7 linked regions of the Homo sapiens genome follow. The protein of the gene in region 5 purifies or fractionates together with the protein of the main gene of each other region. This does not show direct contact. Each region holds a gene or a part of one and is shown on either strand. Other genes may lie near its edges. The genes, in order: ITPRIP, SFXN5, PDS5B, SLC35G2, MAS1, SPG7 and TUBGCP2.

The links.
Region 1: the proteins of MAS1 (region 5) and ITPRIP purify together in Homo sapiens (affinity purification with mass spectrometry; 2 studies listed by BioGRID and IntAct, with this or other methods). This does not show direct contact.
Region 2: the proteins of MAS1 (region 5) and SFXN5 purify together in Homo sapiens (affinity purification with mass spectrometry; 2 studies listed by BioGRID and IntAct, with this or other methods). This does not show direct contact.
Region 3: the proteins of MAS1 (region 5) and PDS5B purify together in Homo sapiens (affinity purification with mass spectrometry; 2 studies listed by BioGRID and IntAct, with this or other methods). This does not show direct contact.
Region 4: the proteins of MAS1 (region 5) and SLC35G2 purify together in Homo sapiens (affinity purification with mass spectrometry; 2 studies listed by BioGRID and IntAct, with this or other methods). This does not show direct contact.
Region 6: the proteins of MAS1 (region 5) and SPG7 purify together in Homo sapiens (affinity purification with mass spectrometry; 2 studies listed by BioGRID and IntAct, with this or other methods). This does not show direct contact.
Region 7: the proteins of MAS1 (region 5) and TUBGCP2 purify together in Homo sapiens (affinity purification with mass spectrometry; 2 studies listed by BioGRID and IntAct, with this or other methods). This does not show direct contact.

What each region holds. Positions count from the first base shown.
Region 1 is NC_000010.11:104,314,466-104,317,965, reverse strand, and holds part of ITPRIP (inositol 1,4,5-trisphosphate receptor-interacting protein precursor), read left to right. Parts: intron 1-1,901; coding exon of another isoform or gene 1,902-1,914; coding exon 1,915-3,500. UniProt on the Homo sapiens protein: Enhances Ca(2+)-mediated inhibition of inositol 1,4,5-triphosphate receptor (ITPR) Ca(2+) release.
Region 2 is NC_000002.12:72,960,213-72,963,712, reverse strand, and holds part of SFXN5 (sideroflexin-5), read left to right. Parts: intron 1-2,464; coding exon 2,465-2,582; intron 2,583-3,500. UniProt on the Homo sapiens protein: Mitochondrial amino-acid transporter. Transports citrate. Does not act as a serine transporter: not able to mediate transport of serine into mitochondria.
Region 3 is NC_000013.11:32,774,952-32,778,451, reverse strand, and holds the end of PDS5B (sister chromatid cohesion protein PDS5 homolog B), read right to left. Parts: intron 3,436-3,500; coding exon 3,400-3,435; 3' UTR 433-3,399; downstream 1-432. UniProt on the Homo sapiens protein: Regulator of sister chromatid cohesion in mitosis which may stabilize cohesin complex association with chromatin. May couple sister chromatid cohesion during mitosis to DNA replication.
Region 4 is NC_000003.12:136,817,902-136,821,925, forward strand, and holds the start of SLC35G2 (solute carrier family 35 member G2), read left to right. Parts: upstream 1-1,224; 5' UTR 1,225-1,727; exon of another isoform or gene 1,728-2,611; intron 2,612-4,024.
Region 5 is NC_000006.12:159,893,988-159,897,487, forward strand, and holds part of MAS1 (proto-oncogene Mas), read left to right. Parts: intron 1-3,500. UniProt on the Homo sapiens protein: Receptor for angiotensin 1-7. Acts specifically as a functional antagonist of AGTR1 (angiotensin-2 type 1 receptor), although it up-regulates AGTR1 receptor levels.
Region 6 is NC_000016.10:89,553,403-89,555,834, reverse strand, and holds part of SPG7 (mitochondrial inner membrane m-AAA protease component paraplegin isoform 1 precursor), read right to left. Parts: intron 2,042-2,432; coding exon 1,875-2,041; intron 1,350-1,874; coding exon 1,272-1,349; intron 1-1,271. UniProt on the Homo sapiens protein: Catalytic component of the m-AAA protease, a protease that plays a key role in proteostasis of inner mitochondrial membrane proteins, and which is essential for axonal and neuron development.
Region 7 is NC_000010.11:133,291,873-133,295,372, forward strand, and holds part of TUBGCP2 (gamma-tubulin complex component 2), read right to left. Parts: intron 1,898-3,500; coding exon 1,690-1,897; intron 1,367-1,689; coding exon 1,167-1,366; intron 817-1,166; coding exon 627-816; intron 176-626; exon of another isoform or gene 1-175. UniProt on the Homo sapiens protein: Component of the gamma-tubulin ring complex (gTuRC) which mediates microtubule nucleation.

The sequences.
Region 1 (3,500 bases), on a different chromosome or scaffold from region 5:
AACCCTTGTGGTTCCTGCAGACCTGTCCAGCTGTGTATGGGGTGGAACTGTCTGAGTCACATCTGAGCAGCAAGTTTGTCTAGGCGTGACCAGCAGCCAACTCAGTCCATCTCCATCCTGCCACTTGCCAGGGACAACCTGCAGAGGTATCTTTACCTGGGGACAAATCCCTGTTCCTTGGCACCATTAGGACAAGAATTTCATTGTGCAAATTCCAGGTCGGGCTCAAGCCAAAGGGAATGGGGCTCAGGTTGGCACAGTAGCTCCTATCAGCCAGTGTTAGTGTGCACTAGGGGGTGGTAGAAGGAGCCCTGTGCTCTCAACAATCTCAGGACCTCAACTGATTTGCATTTGGCCATTTGCTTCCTTCATCGAGGTCCCAAGCAAGGAGGGGGGTAGTTCAAGTGTGGAAATAGCAGATTGTTAAGTCCCAGGATTCCTGCTGAGGAGAGGAGAGGGTGTAACTAAGTCTTGCAGCGTAAGACAGTGCCTCTCAGATTTTTATATGGATGGTATTAAAATGTGGATTCCGATTCAGTAAGTGTGGGTGGGGCCGAGATTCTGCATTTCTAACAAGCTCCCAGGAGATACTGCAGCTGCTGGTCCGTGAATCATACTTCGAATTGCAAAGATTGTAGGGATTAGCCTTTCTCCAAAAGTCACTTGAGGCTTAAAAATCCACTTATCCTAGGGGAACAGAGTGCCTCCTTTCACAATTAAGAAGTTAGATTTAAAGTTCACATGCCTGGTAAGAAGAAATTAGTGATTCTTTGCTCTCTGGTCATCATCAAGATTGTCCTGGGGAAAGACAAAAGCCAGGAGAGTGTGTCTGAATATGGGGTAAGGTCTTCCAGGTCAGAAAGAGACGTTTACAGAAGAGGAGGATAAGGGCTCAAATCTACTTCCGAAACAGTTATTGTTCAGTGAATATGTGCTTTGCACTGGTCACTGGGCCATGCAGTTTGCAGGGATCATTGCGTCTCTCAATACCATGACCCTGTGAGATACTATTGCTTTCCCCTTGTGCAGTAAGGAAACCAGGGCTCAGAGAGGTGTGTTAACATGCCCAGGGTCACACAGCTTTTCAGTTGACAGTGCTGGTTTGGAACCTAGCCCTTTCTCCCTTAACCACTAGGCTTCACTGTATTGCAGGAAGATGACATTCACTTGGGAGAGAAGGGGATATGTTATTCAGGACTATTTTGATTTCAAGTGGTGGAAAGGCCACTCAAACTGACTTAAAAAGGGTTTCTTTATTGACTTGTGTGACTAAAGAGCTCAGACAGCAATGCCTTCAAGCAGAGCTGAGTGTGGGGAGGGGGGGTTCTGCTTTCCTCTATGTTGGTGTCTTTCTCAGGCGGGCTCCCTTCCCGAGAGCCCACTGCAGGTATAATCCTGTTCCCTCAGCAACCTAGCAACCAAACTAGCAACAGGATGAGTCTTTCTTCCTATTGGGCCCAACACACCCTACATCTGTCTCTCATTGGCCCGAATTGGATCAAATGCTCATCCCAGAACCAATCGCTCTAGCTGTAGCTGGGCGGCAGAATGTCTGATTGTCTTGGGCCTGGGTTTTGAGCCCACCCCAGGAGCTTGGAGGTGGGTATATCCTCGCCCTGGCCATAAGGACTGGTAGGAGAAAAGGGTTAGGGACAGTGGGGTGCTGCTGCCATCCAGGAATGTCTGGGTAGGACTAAAACAGATGTCCACCCCAGGGTAGGCCTTTGGGGCTCTTCCATGGCTGGACTGAAGCTCCTGAGGCAGCCGCAGGGAGCTCTCGATGGGTTGGGTGGGAGAACTAAGACCTTAACCAGCCCTGAGGGGCTGAGGTTGGTGCGGGGCCCAGGGACGAAGTGGCATTGAGGGAAGCTTGGTGTGACCATCTGTCTCTCTGTTCCCAGGAAAGCTCCAACCATGGCCATGGGGCTCTTCCGCGTGTGTCTGGTGGTGGTGACGGCCATCATCAACCACCCGCTGCTGTTCCCGCGGGAGAACGCCACAGTCCCCGAGAACGAGGAGGAGATCATCCGCAAGATGCAGGCGCACCAGGAGAAGCTGCAGCTGGAGCAGTTGCGCCTGGAGGAGGAGGTGGCTCGGCTGGCGGCCGAAAAGGAGGCACTGGAGCAGGTGGCGGAGGAGGGCAGGCAGCAGAACGAGACACGCGTGGCCTGGGACCTCTGGAGCACCCTCTGCATGATCCTCTTCCTGATGATCGAGGTGTGGCGGCAGGACCACCAGGAGGGGCCCTCACCTGAGTGCCTGGGCGGTGAGGAGGATGAGCTGCCTGGGCTGGGGGGCGCCCCCTTGCAGGGCCTCACCCTGCCCAACAAGGCCACGCTTGGCCACTTTTATGAGCGCTGCATCCGGGGGGCCACGGCCGATGCAGCCCGTACCCGGGAGTTCCTGGAAGGCTTCGTGGATGACTTGCTGGAAGCCCTGAGGAGCCTCTGCAACCGGGACACCGACATGGAGGTGGAGGACTTCATTGGCGTGGACAGCATGTACGAGAACTGGCAGGTGGACAGGCCACTGCTGTGCCACCTTTTCGTGCCCTTCACACCCCCCGAGCCCTACCGCTTCCACCCAGAGCTCTGGTGCTCCGGCCGCTCAGTGCCCCTGGATCGCCAGGGCTACGGCCAGATCAAGGTGGTCCGCGCCGATGGGGACACATTGAGCTGCATCTGCGGCAAGACCAAGCTCGGGGAAGACATGCTGTGTCTCCTGCACGGCAGGAACAGCATGGCGCCTCCCTGCGGCGACATGGAGAACCTGCTGTGTGCCACAGATTCCCTGTACCTGGACACGATGCAGGTCATGAAGTGGTTCCAGACGGCCCTCACCAGAGCCTGGAAGGGCATCGCCCACAAGTACGAGTTCGACCTGGCCTTTGGCCAGCTGGACAGCCCGGGGTCCCTGAAGATCAAGTTCCGTTCAGGGAAGTTCATGCCCTTCAACCTGATTCCTGTGATCCAGTGTGATGACTCGGACCTGTACTTTGTCTCCCACCTTCCCAGGGAGCCCTCTGAGGGCACCCCAGCCTCCAGCACAGACTGGCTCCTGTCCTTTGCTGTCTATGAGCGACACTTCCTCAGGACGACACTAAAGGCACTGCCCGAGGGCGCCTGCCACCTCAGCTGCCTGCAGATAGCATCCTTCCTGCTCTCCAAGCAGAGCCGCCTGACCGGTCCCAGCGGGCTCAGCAGCTACCACCTGAAGACGGCCCTACTGCACCTCCTACTCCTCCGGCAGGCCGCCGACTGGAAGGCGGGGCAGCTGGACGCTCGTCTGCACGAGTTGCTGTGCTTCCTGGAGAAGAGCTTGCTCCAGAAGAAGCTCCACCACTTCTTCATCGGCAACCGCAAGGTGCCTGAGGCCATGGGACTCCCTGAGGCCGTGCTCAGGGCCGAGCCCCTCAACCTCTTCCGGCCCTTCGTCCTGCAGCGAAGCCTTTACCGTAAGACACTGGACTCCTTCTATGAGATGCTCAAGAATGCCCCAGC
Region 2 (3,500 bases), on a different chromosome or scaffold from region 5:
TCTGAGTTGGCTCCGGGCCCAGGCCACAGCCCTGAGTCCGCTCCCCCAGCTTCCTTTACTCCCTGGGCTCCAGGTCTTTCCTTTCTCCCAGGCATTCGCACATCTCTCCATCTACATATTTTAACTCCCCCAGCTGCCTTTCCCTTCCCTCCTTGCCATTTTCCTCCCCCCTCCCTTCCCCCTGTCCTACTGTGTTCGCTCTCAGGCCTGCTCTGGGCTGGGGCTTCCGAGGCTCCTGTTTCAGCCTCAGGCCTGACTCCTTCCTGAGCTGGGAGCCCAGGCCTCAGACTTCTTGGACCTCTTTCCCACTGAGTACTTCAGCCAGCCACCCTGAGAGAGGAGCCTTGGTCACAGCCCCACAGAAAGGGGGTCTGTCTAGTGTCCCCACCAGCAGGTCCCAAGGACTGAGCCCATGGCCTGCTCTTCACTTGCCGGGGGTAGCGTCTCTCTTTCTTTTTCTCACCCTTCACTGCTCTCAGGGCTGTGGGCAGGGACCCTCGGGGCTGTGCTTCCAGGGACTCCACACCCTCTAGTCACTGCCACTGGAACAGGAGGGCAGCCCCGTCCTTCCACAGCCTCCTCCAAGCAGGGCCTCCAGACTCTGTATGAAGCTTGGAGAATGAGCCTTGTATCCCCCGCTCCTCATCTTGCTTGAGAAGTTCATCTCAGGGCCCTCTCAGCCTTACTCCCAGCCCCTCCACGACCCCTAAGGAAGTCCAGGCGGGCATGGGCTAGCATGGAGTAGAGAGAGAGGGTGGGGGTGCTGGATGGGGATTGGAGGATCAGAGGGGTTTGGGCTTGATTTAGGCACCTTGGTCCTACTGCTCAATCCTGTGGAAACTCCCCTTTCCAATAGCTTAATTCAGGCCGGATTTAGCAGCTGGACAAACCTTGCGGTCTGGGCCTGTGGGAAGGACTGGAAGACAGGTGGGCTACCAGGATCCTACCTTCCCGCAGGTAACATGAGCAATAACAACAGCAATAATGACACATAATTTCTGAGCACTTACTGTGTGCCAGGCCAGGGCTCACCCTTTTACTTGCATAGGATTTGCAAGTAATGGGATCTTTATTAATACCTGAGCAGGAACATCCAGGGCCAGGGTTTATCAGAAGTGTGGTCTGGGATCACCATTTTAGACTCATGGAGGGTTAAAATGCACATTTCCAGGTCCAGTGCCCACTGAATCAGGCTTTCATGGTTGTAAGCAACCCTTGGGCATTTGCATTTTTAACCAGTTGCCCAGTCCAGCTGATGCACTTTAACTTTTGAAAACTACTCCCAATTTTGCTGTCTTCTCAGGGCCAGTTGCTGTTGGGATTCTTGTCTCAAGAGGTGACAGTATATGGGGTTTACTGCCCGCCACATTGGGGCTCTGCCCCTAGGAGGGCCCCTTACCTGCCTGTGGCATGGTCAGCCCTGCTGGGGGCGGCGGATAAGAGCCTGGATTATTTCCCCTTCACACCAGGAGCCTGTCACTTGGAGGCTAACAGTTACTGAGGTCAGATTTAGTGCCTGCCCAACACCCCCTGGCAAATAGTCTAGTCATCCCAGGCCTCCCCAGGTGGAATGCTGTGGTCCCCGCTGAAGGGCCTGCTGTATTGAGCAAAACAGGAAGCTCCGATGAACACAGTGCAGGCACATTGGCCAGCTGGTATGTCCCCACGCTGTCTGGGGAGCCTGGGCCCCAAAGGGAGGTTTATCATGCCCCCTCCCCTGCCCAGGAAACCAGCTCCGAAGCCAGCCATGGGAAGAGGGTGCCAGCTGTGTTGTGTTGGTGATGAAGCTGGCACAGGGGACCAGCTGGGGTGACAGCACCCTCGGGGAGCCAGGGGTCCAGGCAGCAGCTCTGACAGCCTCCTGCAGACTTGGCCTTGGACGAGTCATTGCACCCTCTGTTGCCCTTGGGTTGAAATTGACAAGGTGGCCAGTGGGGTGTCTTCTGTTCTCACACATAGAGGAGGATCACCCCCTCCTGGCTGGCGTGTGCCCATATGTATGTGCTTTGTCATCTCCCCTGAACTTGGCACCTACTCTGGTTTCTTTGCTGTTTAATTACGTGCTGCCCTCGAGAGCGATCTTACGTCCCTATGTGTCTCCCCAGGAACAGGGGCCGACAGCCTCTTTGAGTGTCTCTCCCACATAGGGCCTTCTTGGCACGGGGCTGGACGCGTGGCGGGTGGGTGCCCCGAAAGTACTCATTCGTGACCTGAGTAATTGAGGTTTCAGCCAGCAACGTCCTTCAAGACATTGGGATAGGGGTCTATACCCGCTGGGATAGGGGTACCTATCGGGAAAAGGTCCCAAAGACAGAACTCTGCTATATCTGTTTAGCTGCACACTGGCACTGCCCCGGAACCACGCTTCCTGGGCCCAGAGACAGAGTGGGACCCAGCATGGTGGCTGGCAGCCAGCCCACCCCACCTTCGGGTCTCATGGGGCTCCCTCCTCTCTCCCTCACAGGACGGCTCTCCTGCAGGCACGCCCCCGGCTGCTCCTCCCTGTGCAAAGCCTCGTGTGCCTGGCAGCCTTCGGCCTGGCCCTGCCGCTGGCCATCAGCCTCTTCCCGCAAATGTCAGAGGTCAGTGGGGAGGGGCTCAAGGGCAGGGCAGGGCAGGGGGTGCTGTTTGGTGATTTCTGAACAAATACTCATACCGTGCCGACTCCTTAGCGCCATGCTAGGCGCTGGGGCTGGAACCGTGAATGAGGCTGGCCCAGGCTCTGGCCCTCAGAGTGAGGGTCACGCAGTCAACAGGGTGATTAAACAGAGGCCAGCAGATGAGGAGCCAGGAGCGTTAGGGTGGGAGAAGCTCCACTGGGTGTGGAAGGAGACAGCAGACCAAACTGAGCCTAGAGGGAAGTGACATTTCACTGGGACTGGGAGCGTGGCTGGAGTTGGCCAGATGAAAAGGGGTGGCGGGGGGAGATGTGAGGTCCGCGGACACCTGGTGTGAAGGTTCTGAGAGGTGAGGCAGCACACGCCATGTCCAAGAGCTGACCAAAGTCTGCAGCGCAACCAGGGAGTGCAGCAAGGTGATGTGGCCTGGGAATGAGGGGCTGGGCTGGGTGGTGTTGGGAACTTGGAAGCCAGAACAGAGAGGGTGAATGTCCTCCTAAGGGCTGTGCAGGGCAGACCACAGATGCCTGATTCTGAGCGGCCCCTGTGCTGCCGCGTGGGGCTGGGTTAGAGCTCCAGAGAAGGAACCATCAGGAGCCTGTGGCGGGCATCCAGCAAGCGGTGATGGCGGCTTGGACCAGGCTGTTGGCAGTGGGCATGGAGAGAAGTGGGTCCCTAAAGAGGGAGTCAGGAGGCGGCTTCTTCGGGATTCGATGAAGAGCTGTATGTGGTGGGAGGGAACGGGAGCCAGAGGATGTGCACTGGCTTTCTGGTTTTGAACAACCAGGCAGATGTAGGTGCTTAATGAGATGGAGCCAGGCGGGGGCAGGTTCGAGGGAGGGCAGTGGGTCAGTTGGATGGACACGCGGGGTTGAGGAGCCT
Region 3 (3,500 bases), on a different chromosome or scaffold from region 5:
TCACCCACCTCTAACATAATGAAAGTACCACAAAAGCAGGGACTTACACTATCTTGATCACACTTTATCCTCTGCAAAACTGAGTAAAATTTTTGAGTGCCTGGCACATAGAAGGCACTCAATAAATGTTTGCTGAACGAATTAATAAAACTGCTACTGGCAACTTATTTATTTAGTGCTTATTTTTAAAGTTTATATTATACATTTATTTTGTTCAGTTACGCAATTATTCAACTTAAATAATACTTAGAATTCTCTGTCCGCCAACATTTTGCATGAGAAGTTTAAACAAAAGGTTTGGAAAAAGTTACTGAGACGTGTTTCCACTTCATGAAACAAAGGCTCCAAAATTAAAAATCATCAAATGTGCCTTTCTCCATTTAGTATTTAAATATATATGTTGATTTACATACACAAAATAATACAACTGTATTAGCTTTTATGTTTATTCAACTTCACAGAAATCCAAAAATGTGTCTGAAAATTGGTTATCTATTTAAATAGCAATTGTTCATTATGGTGACATAATACTATGTGATGGCAGAGATATGCCTAATTTAAACAAATTCTTAAATTCCTGACATTCTTACAAGTGGACAAAAGGAAATCTTAAAAATCAGACTTACAAGTTATAAGAAGATATAGAAAGCAATTTAACCTTTAATACCTGGAATAAGTTTTACAGCCACATTTGTAATTTACATATACAGTGAAGATCACTGAAAAAGCCTCCTGTTGCACTGCAGCAAGAAATTTTATTATAATGTAGATTAAACAAATTTGCTACAGAGTGCAGCAAGATAACCTCACTGAGGAATAAGATTTTCATAATGGAACTTGTTACAGGGAGTTAAATATTTTCTTAATGTTATACAGTACATATTTTCAAAATGAACATTATCACTGAAATAGTTTGCTAACAATTGTTAGCAATTAATGTTTTATACACACTTAATTTTACTGTAAAGTATGTGGCTCTCCAAATCTTACTACATGAAATGTTAAGCTTAAACGTAAGATAATCCCCTAAGATGGAGACTCAAGACATCAAAACTTTGATCATTATTGCACCTATTTTTCTACACAAAAAAAAAAAAAAAGAAAGAAAGAAAAGAAAAATTTACATCGTAATCCACCCAAAAAAAGAACAGACAGGTCGTAAAATTACAGACTCATTGGCATTGAACATAACAAAATCTACAATGAACATTTTTTTGTGAACTGCTGTACAGCATTACAAAAATGTGAAATGAAATTTGCTTAACTATAATCATGCAAATAAAAATCCTTCACAATCACTTTTTCGTATGTTTTATAAAATGTTCTTAATATTTCCATAAACATTTCTGGTGCAATTTAATCAATGACAAAAATACAAAGCTATTCCTTATTCTTTATGTTATAGATTTTAAAACATGCCTTTGTACTGCTGAAACAGAAATTATGTGTTTGGGAGAACCGAGCTAAGGAAACATTTCAAAACCAATGTATGTTGATCCCACCTGAGCTGCTTTGATATATGACAGCCTCTCATAATTACTGGTGTCACTATTGTTGTAAATGAAGAATAGTTGAATATGGAGAGATTAAGACACAATTCAAAACACTTTTTAAAAAATAAATGGCTGTTTCATAAACACAAACAAATCTTTAAAAGAAAAATAATCACATCAATTGCAATATACATTGGCAAATAGTAAAATGTCATTTTCCAAAATAGTAGCTTCTTTATTATATGCCCCATCTATTATAACCAATCTTGGAAATATATCTTAAACATAATGGTGTATCATATGAAAATGTTCCACTATTCAATGTGATAAATTTAATAAGTTAGAATATGATTTTTTCCCCTCTGGTGTTAACCATGAAAAAACATAACAGCACCTAAAATACTAAAATGAAATTAGGTAAGCATTAAGTAGTAACCTATATGTTTTGGTTCAAAATACAGTTTATACAACTGTATAAAGGATACTGCCTTAAGTAATTTATTTCTACATTTTGCAGATTACAATGAAGAAAAAAAAAGACCTGCTCTAAATCCAAATAAATTTCCACTTCTCCCAATCTGGACAAAGTGGAATTTCATTCAAAGTTCACAAGACTGTGACAACTACAGTAGCTGATATACTTGGATATACCACTTCTACGCTGCCCCCACCCCCCAGAATCAATTTTTTGGCTCCAAAATAAAGTACAATAATAAACTCTTGATGAAAAACTATGTTATGGGGCAATCTATCATATACTATGGCTAAATATGAATTTACAGAAAACAGCACATCCCATTTTCAGCACTTTTTTTCAAAAACATGCAACTCACTATAAAATACAAAACACTTGGCTTTCAAGAACAGCTTTATAAAGACACACTGCATCAATAAAATTTTTTCTTTCTGATTAACTTTACACTGTTACGGAGAACTGGAATATTTCTAATGTGTATATATCAGGTTTTATATTATAGTGTAATTTGCATTTTCTGAACATAACGTTCAAGAGGAAATATCTATACACAATAACATTCTAGACTATTAAAAACTCATTCAAATTACAGAATTTTATTGATACAGTAGATTAATAAAAACTGAAAGGATGATAAAATGGGATAAAGAATTCAGTACATTATTTTATAACACACTCTTTAAAATTAAAATACTTTAAATCTTTCTTCTTAAAATTTTCATTGCCATGAAAGGCCAGAAAATTCTGGGACAAATCAATACTGAGGTGTAAAGTAATCCAAGAACTTCAGGACTATTTCACAATTTGCATGGTTGTCCTCCTATCAGAGGCATCCTTCTGGTGTAATGGCAGACAATTTAGCACCTCTGAAGATTAAGGGTGCCCAGGAGTAAACACTAGGTAAGATACACAAAGGGAAGAGACCATTTAACTCTCCAACAAATAGTGACATCAAGAAAATGACACCAATTGTTGAAAACAAATTTTTTTTCACAGTAAAATTGCAGAGAATACAAATACAAACACTGACAGATTACTGCTTAAGATCTATCCTAACAAATTCTTTTCAAATCAATAGATCCAATAAACAGTCGGGTACTGTCAGTTTAAAGCCGCAGATAAAAGCTATACAAGCACTTCAGAAATCAGAAACATTAAAAAAAAGAAAAAAGATATTTACAAGTTTCTTCTTTATGTCTACATAGCCATCGCACATTACACTTTCACAAGACTCCATAGTCAATGTTACCATGTGTATGGCTAAAGCATGTGACCACAAATGTATGGGGTCACCAAAGTAAGGTCCAACTGTCCACTCTTCAGCAGTCCCATTTTGTGCATCAAAGGCTTTATTCAGCCTCAAGCTTGACCAAAAAAAAAAAAAAAGATTTTTCCAAAGCTTTCACAGAGAAAGTTATTAATTACATTTGTTCATCGCCGTTCCCTTTTAGCACTTCGCCGCCGTACCTTAAAAGGAAAGTCACCAGATGCTTAATTAAAATGGGTATATGTGCATAAGATATGCAGTAATC
Region 4 (4,024 bases), on a different chromosome or scaffold from region 5:
ACCTAAACTAGCACCCTCGGGCTATGGGGCCCAGTGGGGAGACCACCTAGCATGCTGGCTGCCTGGAGCCCAGGGAACTGTCAAGATGGCTCTGGAAGACTTCTCGCCTTTTAAAAGCCCCGTATTTCTTTTACATATATTTTTGTCCTCATGAATTTTGCCAACCGCAATGGACTAAAATCTATTATAGCGTCCTGGAAAGGTGGGGAAAAGATGGGATAGTTGAGGAGAGTTTAATGAAGGGACTATTTAAAAAGGTGTGGATGGGGTTAAAGGAAACCTCTGGGCGTCATTACCCACTCCAGGCCTGAAGGGGCAAGGGTAGTTAGTGGTAACCAGAACCTGGAGAAAACTGCAGGAGAGGGCCACAGGATGGGAGTAATGGCTTTCAGATGAAGAACATAGCCACTGCTAACAGGGTGGCCCGCTGGGGATGCAGGGGAGGTCCTGAATCACATCCTGCCTTCTGATCTGCAGGTGCCTCCCACTTGCCAAAACCAATTGAAAGCCAGATTATAGTTGACGTAGCCCATAAAGGTCAGTCCTGAGTCACAGAGCAGAGTGGAGAGTGGGTCTGAAGGGACAGAGGAAAAACCAGCAAGCACCTCCTGTTTTTTCCCACAGCCAGCACCTTGGTTCAGCCCTTACCCTTTCTTGCCTGTCCCCTGGACCCATCAAATCCACTGCTTTTAATGACCAGTCTGTTTCCAAGAGGCTATATTCATTCCACTTGGGACTGGGGCATATGCACTTGGGTAGAAGAACCAGCTGTGCAGTGTCAAGACCCTTCCCTCAGAGACCTTATCAGTAAAATGGCGGGTGGACTCGGGGATGCCCGAAGACTTTTCCGGACCACGATTTTCCGATGCTGGACACATATTTAAACATGAAGGAATAGACTTGCGACTTTTAAGCGCAAACAATGGGTGGAAATGGACAGAAACTGCCTCCGTGCCCACTTGCAGCGGACTACGTAGCCCTGGCAGACAGGCAATTGCTTCAAACAAGCGCCCTCCAAGGGCGTAAGCTAGAGGGGCCCGGGCGGGCGCTTTCCCGTGGACCCTCCCACCTCGCGGGTAGAGGAAGTCCTTCAGTTCAGGCACAACCCTGAGCGTCCCCCGCAGTCTCCAACTCCGGCGCCAGTCAGGTTGTGGGGTGGGGGCGGCGGAGGGCGGAGAGCGCAGGCGCAGAGTCCGCGCGGCGGCGCCCCTCTCCCTCCGCAGTACTCCGGGCAGCGCCCGCCTCGATTTTCCCAGGCGAGGGCACGCCCGCGTCAGTCGCCTCCGGGGCACCTTCCTCGCCACGACACGCAGGTAACCGGGCCCCGGGAGCCGGTCGGCGGCGGCGGACTGGGACCTTGATCCTGCCTGCCCGGCCGCCCGACAAGGGAATGAGAGCGGACCCCGAACTCCACACACCCGCGTTTAGCCGCCACACCTAAGGGGCACAACAGTCTTTTTGGGTAAGGGCCGGGCTGGGGGCGACGCGCCCCGCCCGCTTTGCAGACTTCGGGGTGCTCTGCACGACGCCTGAAAGGCCGCGGGGCCCGCATTTCTCTGTGCTGCCCTCCTGGAGAACCGGGACACGGGGACGGGAGGGCCAGCATCGGCTACGGCCCGGTTTCCCGTTTCTTTCCGCTGTCGCGTGTCTGGGCCCTCCTGCAGCGTCCATGATGAAGGCCAGGGGCTGTTGCTTTCCTCTCGCCCAGTAGCCAACCCAAGCAAGGGGTGAGTCACTGTGGCGTCATATGGGATCAATTTCAAATACAAGTTTTAAAAAAGGCTGGATGATTTTAGAAATATGGCCAAGAATTTGTATTTTCCATTACTCTCTTGTCTCATGTCCATGACTCTTGAACGCCAGTCTGTGGGCGCTGAGATTTTCGTGGTACATCGACGGTTTGTAGACATCTTTTCCCAAGGGAAGACGAGGGCAAGGGTTAGTGGAGGAAGGGCCTCGTCACGGCCGAGAGTGGCGGAGAAGGCTCAGGGCAAGTCCGCACAGCCTCCAGCAGCCACGGGGAGGAAAAGGCGAATCTTTCCTCACAGTGCTCTGGGCGCTGTAGAATTTCTACGCCACGTGCACCCATTTGGCCTCATTTGAGAGGAGGAGAGGGAAGAAGGGTCGCGCGGGCCGGCAGGAAAGAGACTCGTGTTGCGGCGGATGAAGGCTCAGCGCGGACCTGCATCTCGGGCCAGGTTTTCTTTCACCCGGCTCCGCGAGGAGCGAGGCGGAAAGCTCGGGTCCGAGTGTTGATCGAGGACCTGGAGATAGTAACCCCCCACGTCCAGAGTGCTGGGGGTGGGTCCAGAGGGCTGGGGGTAGGTCCAGAGGGCTGGGGGTAGCTCCGGAGGAGCGATCTTCCTCCGCGGGAAAGGACTTGGCTCAGGCTTGCCTATGTCCGTGGTGCTGAAGTGCCTCGCGCGCCCTCGTCGACTGACTTCCTGGGCCGCGGCCTGCGTTGCCCTTCTACTCTGCACCTTTGCCAAAAATAGCCCATCTCCATGGCTGGTGGCCAGAGTGGAGCAGGCCCAACACTGAAACTCTTTTCAGACAAGTTGAGGCTGGTTTCCTGAACATAACCCGAAAGCAAATGTGGCTTGCCTTGGAGGTACAGATAAGCATATGCATAACAGATTTTATTACCTATGAGAAAGTACACACCATGAGCGTAAACAGGAATTCTCACATATACTTATGAAAGATACAGGTATGTGCATTTACGCACAAACCTAACACACATGCAAATACACTCATCCCTTTTGAAAACCATTACACACTACAAGCCACACATTTTTTAGAGCTTTTGTAATCCATCTTTATTTTTTGACACTTCTAGTAAATGTGAACTCTGCAGAGCCATTTATTTTCATAATCATCTGTTCCAAAGGCACAGAGCCTGTGGATTGAAGTGTTTGGTATTTGGCTGAGCAATTAAGTATTTATACTCATTTACATTCCAGAACAAAAGTCTAGGAAGATGTAAAATTGATATTGATACCAAAAAAATTCCTTAAAGAAAGCTTAAGGAAAATGAATTAATGTAAATTTTAATAAGAACAACATATAAATAATCATAGAAATTTATAATCTTAACATATGACTAAAATGTATCATAATGCAGACAATTTTAAATATATTGGTGGTATGTGGTTTGTGTGAAGTTCTTAAAGTTTACATTTGTATTTTTCAAAAACATTGGTATTGTTTTTTCCTTAAAAAATATATGCTCATTATAAGAATTTTAGGTAATAGAGAAATGCATAAACATAGAAAACCATTGTAAACAGATTTTCATTTAGATGAACATGCATACATTTTAAATGGACCAATCCTCTATTGGTTGCGTTTTTGCTATATAATTTATAATTAATGTCTTTCATCATAAAACTAGGTCATCATTATTAAGGGTTGCATAATATTGATCTGTGTGGATAGAATGTAAGTTTTTTAAACAATCCCATAATGAACATTTATGTCCAATTTTTTAGACTTAAAAAAATTATTGTGGAAAGAATATGTAACATGAGATCTATCCTCTGAACAAAAAAAAAATTTTTTTTTGAGACATTGTCTTGCTTGTTGCCCAGACTGGAGTGCAGTGACGTGCTCTCCGCTCACTGCAACCTCTGCCTCCCGGGTTCAAGGGATTCTCCTGCCTCAGCCTCTTGAGTAGCTGGCCACCGCACCCAGCTAGTTTTTATATTTTTAGTAGAGACAGGGTTTTACCATGTTGGCCAGGCTGGTCTTGAACTCCTGTCCTCAGGTTATCTGCCTGCCTTGGCTTCCCAAAGTGCCAGGATTACAGGCGTATGCCACTGCACCCGGGCCTGCCTTCTTAACAAAATTTTACGTGTATAATACATTATTGTTGATATGTATTGTTGATAGGTGCAATGCTGTATAGCAGATCTTTAGAGCTTATGCATCTTGCTTGACTGAGACTTTATGCCTGTTGATTAATAACTCCTGATTTTCCCCTGCCCTCCAGTCCCTGGAAACCACCATTCTACTCCTCGATTCT
Region 5 (3,500 bases):
GTTGGATTGCTGTTTTGGCCCACTGAGACTGCTCTGCCACCTGATGAGGCTCAGTTGGAGATACCCAGGACATTTGGGTATATGGGTCTGACATGCTGGGGAGATGTGTGAGCTAAAGCTGTGCATTTGGATTTCATCAGAAAATGGTGATGGTTGAAATGGTGGGATTGAACAAGACCACCCAAGGAGAGTCTGTGGAGTAGGAAGGGAAGAGGGTCGAGAACGGAGCCTGCAGACTGGCCAACACGGCAAAACTCCGTTTCTACTAAAAATACCAAAAAATTAGTCAGATGTGGTGGCGGGTGCCTGTAGTCCCAGCTACTTGGGAGGCTGAGGCAGGAGAATCACTTGAACCCGGGAGGCGGAGGCTGAATTGAGTGGAGATGGCACCACTGCACTCCAGCCTGGGCGACAGAGTGAGACCCTGTCTCAAAAAAAAAAAAAAAAAAAAAGAATGGAGCCTGGTGGAACTCCAAGGTGCAAAGGGCAGTGTAAGAAGAGATCCAGCGAAGGAGAAAGAAGAAGAACTGCAGGAAAGCAGGAGGAGAGCCAGAGGGAAGAAATATGCTAGGCTCTGGCATCATCTCGGAGACAAGAGGCGAGGAGACGTGAAGTGGGGTTCCATAGCAACATTCATGCATTGGGGAGGGGCTCGAGCCCCAGATCTTGTCTCACCTGCTTCTAGAGGACTTGGCTGAGAGCGCTGCGCTGTTGAATGCACTGGCTCCTTTCTCTTATTTGTTCTGATGAAAGGACATGCCTGAATTGCCCCCTCTGACATCAATTATCTTTACCCATAATGGTGAAGCATGGTGTCCTTCATCAATAGATGTGTTTATTGATAATAGTGATAGCTAGGAGCCACTCTGTTTCACAGAAGAAAGTGAAAACAGAGACAATATTTCTGAAAACAACTCATTCCTGTGTGTTTGTGTTGTTTTGGTTATGGGTTTGGTATTGGGTAGGTGGTGCTTTAATAAATAAAAATCCATTCTTTGATAAATAAGATCCATCCTTTGATAAATTAAAAACTCCATCTTTTAAGGATCTTAATTACTAACAACCCAGTTGATTGTGCGGTTGCTTCTGGCGACATAAAAGCCGTTAATAAATGTTCCAAAAGTCCTGACAGCCCCATGAATGGGTGTGTGAACTTCACACATAGACGGACTGTTGACAATGAGCTGGTGTGTGTGTATGTTGGGTGGGGCAGGGGAGGGCTAGAAATAGTGCCAATTTGGACCTGGGGCAATCCAGGCTCTGCTGCTGCCTTTGTTACTAAGTATGTAACCTTGGACTAGTCCTGAGTTAATTTCCTCACCTGGAAAAACAAGGGGGTGGTTTGCAGTATCTGCATGATTTTTTCAAGCTCTAAGTCTTAATGATCAGCACAGGATGGTCTGACTTTACCAATAAGAAAGTGTTTTTAAGAAAACTCCAAGCCGCATCCTTTCATGTCTTTTATAAAATACTCCAGTTGCTGGGGAAAAATATAACATATACATATGTTGTAACGTATAACATATAACAAATTGCCATATTTACAAATGTTTCTTGCAGTTCAATAAAAGAAATGGACATAGAGTATGAAAAAACAATCCATCAAAAAATACAAGTAACCGTTAACATAAAAGAATGTCCAACCTCATTAGGAATCAAATAAATGCAAATTAAAACAAGGTATCTTTTATCATCTATCAAATTTGGGAATTTAAGAAACTGAAGATGTTGTAGAAAAAGAAACATATATATGCTGTGAAAAAAACTTTATATACTGTTGATGTTGGTATTAATATAATTGGCATGGTTATTTTGGATGACAGTTTGTTAATACACATTTAAATCTTGAAGAACGTTTATACCCTTTGGTCTAGCAATTCCACTTTTAGAAATATGTCCTAGGGGAATAATTAGAGATGTGCACAAAATTTGCATCCATATGAATTCATTACGGTGCTTTGTTTTTAAAAATAGCGGTGAAAAATCAGCAGCAAATGGATATGTCCAAGGCTAGGGGATTATTAAAAATGAATAATGAAAGCTGGGCACAGAGGCTCACGCCTGTAATCCCAGCACTGCGGGAGGCCAAGACAGGAGAATCAGTTGAGTCCAAGAGTTTGAGACCATCCTGGGCAACATGGGAAAACCCTGTCTCTACAAAAAATACAAAAACTCAGCTGGCATGGTGGCAAGTGCTCTAGTCCCAGCTACCTGGGAGGCTCACTTAAGCCCAGGAGATAGAGGCTGCAGTGAGCTGTGATCTCACTGCTGCACTCCAGCCTGGTTGACAGGGTGAGACCCTGTCTCAAAATTATAAATATATAAATAAATAAACAAATAAATCATGAGACCTTCAGTTAGTGATACTGAAGTCATACTTTTAGAGTATATACTGACATGAGTAAATGTTTACAATATGATACTGAGTAAAAAAAGGTAGAAAGAAAGGATACCAAAAGATTATAAAATGCAATCTCAATTTTAAAAACGAGCGTGTGTAAGACATTGAACAAAGACCAATGGAATATCCTAAATGTTGAATCTGGTTAATTTTTAATAGTAGTTGTATGTGTGGATTTTCTGAATTTTCTTCAATGAGCACATACTGCTTTAAAATTAGAAGAAAGGCGATAAACATTTAAAAGAAAATATCCCCATTTTGTGTTAAGATTAAAGAGGCTATAAAATGAGCCCTGCTGGGACTGTAACTGCCTAAAGGGTTCTCTTTGCCTGCTGCCCAGACAGAGCCGATTTATCAAGACGGGGGAATTGCAATAGAGAAAGAGTTTAATTCATACAGAGCCAGCTAAACTAGAGACCAGAGTTTTACCACTCAAATCAGTCTCCCTGAAAATCCAGAGACTGGGTTTTTTTGTTTGTTTGTTTGTTTGTTTGTTTGTTTTTGAGACGGAGTCTTGATCTGTCACCCCGGCTGGAGTGCAGTGGCTCGTTCTTGGCTCACTGCAAGCTCCGCCTCTCGGGTTCACGCCATTCTCCTGCCTCAGCCTCCCAAGCAGCTGGGACTACAGGCGTCCGCCACCACGCCCGGCTAATTTTTCTGTATTTCTAGTAGAGACGGGGTTTCACCATGTTAGCCAGGATGGTCTCGATCTCCTGACCTTGTGATCCGCCCGCCTCGGCCTCCCAAAGTGCTGGGATTACAGGCCTGAGCCACCACCCCCGGCCGGAGACTGGGGTTTTTTTTAAGGATAATTTGGTGTGTAGGGCACCAGGGAATGTGGAGTGCTGATTGGTCAGGTTGGAGGATGAAGTCACAGGAAGTTCAAGCAGTTTGTTTTTGCGGTCTTCTGTTTCTGGGTGGGATCACAGAACCGGTTGAGGCAGATTATCTGTCTGAGTGGCACCAGCTGGTGCATCAGAATGCAGGGTCTGAAAAATGTCTTGAGCACAAATAACAGATTTTACAACAGTGATGTTATCCCTAGGAGTAATGGGGAGGTAGAGAATCTTGTGGCCTCTGGCTGCATGACTCCTAAACC
Region 6 (2,432 bases), on a different chromosome or scaffold from region 5:
ACTGCCTACCCATCTGTTCACAACATGGGACAAAGAGCCGTGCACCTCTCCTGAGTTCTAAGCAGCAGTTACCAAACCCAGGGACAAAAACGTTCACTCCAGCTCTGCCCACTGTGAGAAACACATCAGACAATCGCAACTGAGGAACGTCCTACAAAACATGAGACCAATCCTCAAAACTGCCAGAGCCCTCAAAACAAGGGAGGTCTGAGGAACTGTCACCCCAGAGGAGCCTAAGAAGATGGGCGATCAAACGCCATGTGGACTCCCAAGACCGGAAAGGACACTGGGGAGACTCAGCACATCTGAATCACGTGTGGACCCAACACCGCGGGTCGGCGGGGGCTCCTCAGGTGGGAGGACTGCCCCATGGGGGCCTCCACGGGAGCGAGGCAGGGTGGCAGGGAGCTCTCTGCACCGCGCCTGCAACTTTTCTACATCTAACACTATAATCAGCGTGGGGCTGTGGCTCACGCCTGTAATCCCAACACTTGGGGAGGCCGAGGCAGGCGGATCACCTGAGGTCAGGAGTTCAAGACCAGCCTGGCCAATGTGGTAAAACCCCACCTCTACTAAAAATACAAAAATTAGCTGGGCATGGTGACGCGTGCCTGTAATCCCAGACACTTGGGAGGCTGAGACAGGAGAATGCTTGAACTGGGGAGGTGGAGGTGGCAGTAAGCTGAGATTGCACCACTGCACTCCAGCCTCGTGACAGAGAGAGACTCCATCTCAAAAAAAAAAAAAAAAGAAAAGCCGAGTGTGTTGGTGCATGCCTGCAGTCGCAGCTACTCGGGAGGCTGAGGCAGGAGAATCACTGGAACCCGGGAGGCAGAGGTTGCAGTGAGCCAAGATGTCGCCATCGCACTCCAGCCTGGGTGACAGAGCAAGACTTTGTCTCAAAAAAAAAAAGAAAAAAAAATTCCTACTCTAAAATTAAAGCTTTGTTTTAAAAAAATGTTCAAGAAAAAAGTGTAAGACTTGGGAAAAGATTAAACAAAACTGACAAAACATTGGTAATTGCTAATGGCAGGAAGAGGCACAGGAGACTGTGGCAGCCTTCTTTCTACCTCGGGGGAACACACTTGACGAGTTCAGGATAAAAAGTATGGAACACGTAAGTTTCAGTTGAGCTGGGTAGAATTCACATCGGTCAGAGTGTTCTCTGTACTCTGTGTGCCTTGGAAATACTTCACGAGAGGGGTGGGGACCGTGGGTGCTGTGTGGACACTGTGTGACGCCGTAGCCCCCACGCCTGGCCAGGGCCTCACCGCCTGCAACTTGTCCAGGTTGTCCTGCAGCACCTTCTCGGTGTGTCTGTAGGCCTTGGCCACCAGCAGTCTTGCTTCCTGTGAGTGGAGGGAACTGTGTCAGGGGCAAGGCTGGCCGCCTGGCTCCAGCACCAAAGCACAGAAAAGAAATGGCAGACTGGGAACACGGCCTTTCCCCTCCCAGGAGGAACAGGACTCCTCAGCCGACAGGTGGTCTCCTGCCCCTGTGACCAGTGCCAGGAAAGCAGGGCTCCGCATGCCAGCCCACCCACCCACACCCACCCACAGCTGCCTCACAGGCACACATCGGCCCTTCCTGGCCCAGTCTGAAGGACATGTGGGCCCTGGGTCTATTGCTCGGTGTATTTATTTGATATTCTTCCCAGATTCACATCTATAATTTCATTAGGAGCATCTATGTCCTCATTTGAGAAGAAAATACTCCACAGGTGGGAACTACAGCAGAGCCCAGAAGGAAGAAACCCAGGTGGGGCCTGCAGCTGAGCTCCGCTGGGGCGGCCGTGGGCGACCCTTGTGTGGTAGACCCAGGGACTCCCTCCCCGGGGAGCACAGAGGGCAGCGGTGTGGCCAGAGCCGACTCACATGGTCCATCATCTGCTGCAGGCCTTGGCTGAAGGGGCGCCGCCCGATGCCCATGAGGCCCTCCTGCGCCTCAGGGAAGGAGATGGGCCCGATGCCAGGTGCCATCCCAAACTGCTTCACCATGGAGTAGGCGATGCGGGTGACCTTCCTCAGGTCGTCCTGTGCCCCTGGAGGGCGGGGTCGAGACAGAGGCATCCTCAGCACTGCAGGCGCAGAGCAGTGCTGGGCCCCAGGTGTCCCGGTCAGAGCACTGAGGCAGCACCACCTCCATCCCCTTCCTCCCGAGGACCCACCGTGAAGCTGGACAGTGAGGACGTTGGCACCTCACCACTGTTCCTTAAGAGAGTCTTAAAACTTTCCGAAATGCTCTTTTATTTGGAAATCTAGAACCCGGGGGCATACTGGAGCTCACTGCATGGCAGTTCTCAAGCACAAGCCCAGGCCTATGCGAGGCAAACCCATGGACCTGGAGCCCAGGGGCCCCCGGGACCCTCCTTCAGCTCTCTGGATATCCCAGTGCAGTAATGGCTTCAGAACAATGAAGCCGCTTCAATTTTA
Region 7 (3,500 bases), on a different chromosome or scaffold from region 5:
CTGTACGGGAGAGGGCAGCATGCACCGTCCGTGTCCCCCATGTCCCTCCGTGTCCCCCATGTCCCTCCGTGTCCCTCCGTGTCCCCGTGTCCCGGGGAGCCCTACCTGTACGGGAGAGGGCAGCACGCACCCTCCGTGTCCCCCATGTCCCTCTGTGTCCCTCCGTGTCCCTCCGTGTCCCCCATGTCCCTCCGTGTCCCCCGTGTCCCTCCGTGTCCCTCCGTGTCCCTCCGTGTCCCCCATGTCCCCCATGTCCCCGTGTCCCGGGGAGCCCTACCTGTACGGGAGAGGGCAGCATGCACACTCCGTGTCCCCCGTGTCCCTCCGTGTCCCCCATGTCCCCGTGTCCCGGGGAGCCCTACCTGTACGGGAGAGGGCAGCATGCACACTCCGTGTCCCCCGTGTCCCTCCGTGTCCCCCATGTCCCCGTGTCCCGGGGAGCCCTACCTGTACGGGAGAGGGCAGCATGCACACTCCGTGTCCCCCGTGTCCCTCCGTGTCCCCCGTGTCCCCGTGTCCCGGGGAGCCCTACCTGTACGGGAGAGGGCAGCATGCACACTCCGTGTCCCCCATGTCCCTCCGTGTCCCCGTGTCCCTCCGTGTCCCCGTGTCCCGGGGAGCCCTACCTGTATGGGTCGTGGATGATGCCCCTGTAGATCCACTTCTCCAGAACCTCGAAGTAGGGAGCACTGGCCGCCTTGGTTAGGTACAGGCATAGCTCCTGCGCCTGGCTGTCCCCTGTGTAGCTGAAGCTCCTGTCGTGGAGCAGGCTCAGCGTGGACCCCCCAAGACATTCGCCTTTGTCCACCGAGGTGGCTGTGGGGAGAAAGGAGGGCTCACTGCTGAGAAGGAAGCGCACGCCCAGCCTCTGCCAACAACACTGCTGGGGCCCCTCATGCTTCTCCAACCTTCTTCCTGGGACGGTGCTGCTTCTTTGGGATACGTATTAACTGTAAGGTTGTAGTTGCTGATTTCAGCTGACCAGTAAGAGCTTCCAGGGCTTTCCTCTTGCAAGTTAATAGCACATGGAGCAACATGAGCTTTGGCCACACGCCCCTGCCCTGGGCAGCTGCTCCACGGCCCCTGCAGAGTCTCTCCTCACACTGGGTGCCATGTTCAACACCTGCCACCCACCACTGCCCCATGCCCCCCGGGCGGGCACGCACCGAGGGAGGCCAGGATGTCCATGGTGCGCATGGCTGGCTGGATGTAGAACCAGAGCTTCTGCAGCGAAAGGAGGCCCTGCCTGTGCAGCTGCTCCAGCTGTGACACCAGAATCAGGTGCTCCTTCACCAGGGTGCGCATGGCGGCCGCCAGGGCGTGGTTCACCTGCCCGTACTCGAAGGAAGACTTCTCTTCAATGAACCTGGAAGAAAAGCTGTCAGACTTCCTCAAAAAGGCAAGCTGCAGGCACATACAATGTCCGATATTCTGAGTCTCATCCCAAACAGGAAGCAAATGACTCACTTGAACCCCACATCCCAGAGGGGAACTTTTGCCCCAGGAGGAGATGAGTCAGGACCCTGGATGGTGACTCACAGACCCTCCAAAACTGAGTTGGGCACGGAGTTGTCACCAAGGCGGGCGCTCTCTTTAGAAGCGATGCAGACGTCCCCATGGTCATCAGGATGGGACCTAACCCCTCCCCCACAACAGCGCAGGCTCCCAGGGACCGCGCCCGGTGCCCACCTGGTCACAGCGGAGTAGCTGGCGGCCACTGGGAGGATCCTGTGCACCAGCTCCCTGATGGACAGGTCCAGGTTGGGGTCCACGAGGAAGGTCCGGCTCTGCCTCCCAGCCAGGGGCTGAGCACTGACGTACCTCCCGTCCACGCCCACCAGCACGTACAGCAGGTCCTCCACCACGGCCGACTCCTGCGAGGCCAGGGGCAACGTGCCTGCGGGCACAGACAGCGCTGTGGCTCTGCAGCCCCCACTCCCATGCCCCCACAGCCACGTGCCCTCATCTGCGGGTCAGTCTCACTCTTGCTCATCTTTGTTTATGGGTATAAAAGGTCAGCCACTGCACTTGGCTTTGACTGACCCCACTGGGGAGCCACAGGCTGAGTTCCAACCGCCGCAGGACGGGGCCGGCCTGGGAGGCGTGGTGGCTGGTGTCAAGATCTCACCACACTCGGCTCCGCAATGCTCAGATACATGGCTGACATTTGAAAAGGTGAAGTTAGGAGTTGAAAAGGCGACTCCAGCAGAAGCTGCACTTTCAACATTGGTAAGTACAACTTGGTAAGTCTGAGTTACTCTGGGACAAAAAACCTTGTCTTTAAAAAGCTATCACTTAAACGTTAAGAAACTCTTGATAATTTCTATCCAGAGAGGATGAGACGGCTGCAGGACACACAGCTAAGCTTCCTCACGAGGACGGCCACGGGCCGCCACCCACCAAACCCCTCAGGTCCCAGGACCAAGTTCTCAGTCCACAGCCTCAGGCGGGCCATGCCTGGGGGGCCGGGAGGAGCACCAGACGAAAGCAGGATGTTGAAACTGTCCCCACGAGGGCCTGACAGGGCCCCGTGCCAGCCAGACCATACCCAAACCAGGCCCTGGCAGCTCAGGAAGGCTCCGTACAACAGGCTTTCGGTTTACAAAATCACTCTGTCAGCCTCACACATCTGCTGGGAAGTGTCCTGTGACTGCAGGCCTCAAGACTACAATCCGTCACCAACGCAAGCCCTTCAGCGAAAGCCTCAATCCTGATGCAGATCCACACTGTCCTTGTTTTTTTTTTTTCCTTTTTTTATTTTTGAGACAAATCTCACTCTGTCACCCAGTCTGGAGGGCAGTGGTGCAATCTCAGCTCACTGCAGCCTTGAGCACCCAGGCTCAAGCGATCCTGTATCCTTAGTCTCCCTCGGAGCTGGGACCACTGGCACGTGCCACCATTCCTGGCTAATTTTTAAATTTTTTGTAAAGGTGGGGTCTTGCCGTGTTGCCCAGGCTGGCAGATCTACACTTTTCAACTTCAAATTCCATTTCTTTCTATTACTCCAGTGGCCTTCTCAGGATGACCAATAAAACCGAGACCCCAATGTCTACCATCCCTAAAGGAGTGGGTGTGGCTTGGCGTTTTGGGAACAGCGAGTGCATCTTCCAGGAACTGCCTCTGACTCTGCATCACTTACTTTCCACCATGTTGGCCTCATTCATCCACAGCCACGAAGCCTCGGCCAATGCCCTTGTGGGGAGAAGCCTCACGGTGGGGTGGAGGTGCCGTGGGGTGGGGGTTAGTGTGGATCCAGCCGCCTGGCTGTGGAGGGACCTCAAGGGTTGCTTTAGGCCGGGTATGGTGGCTCACACCTGTAATCCCATCACTTTAGGAGGCCAAGGTGGACAGATCGCTTGACTCCAGGAGTTCAAGACCAGCCTGGGCAACACGGCGAATCCCCGTCTCTACTGAAAATACAGAAATTAGCTGCGTGTGATGGTGCACACCTGCAGTCCCAGCTACTCGGGAGGCTGAGGTGGGAGAATCACCTGAGCTTG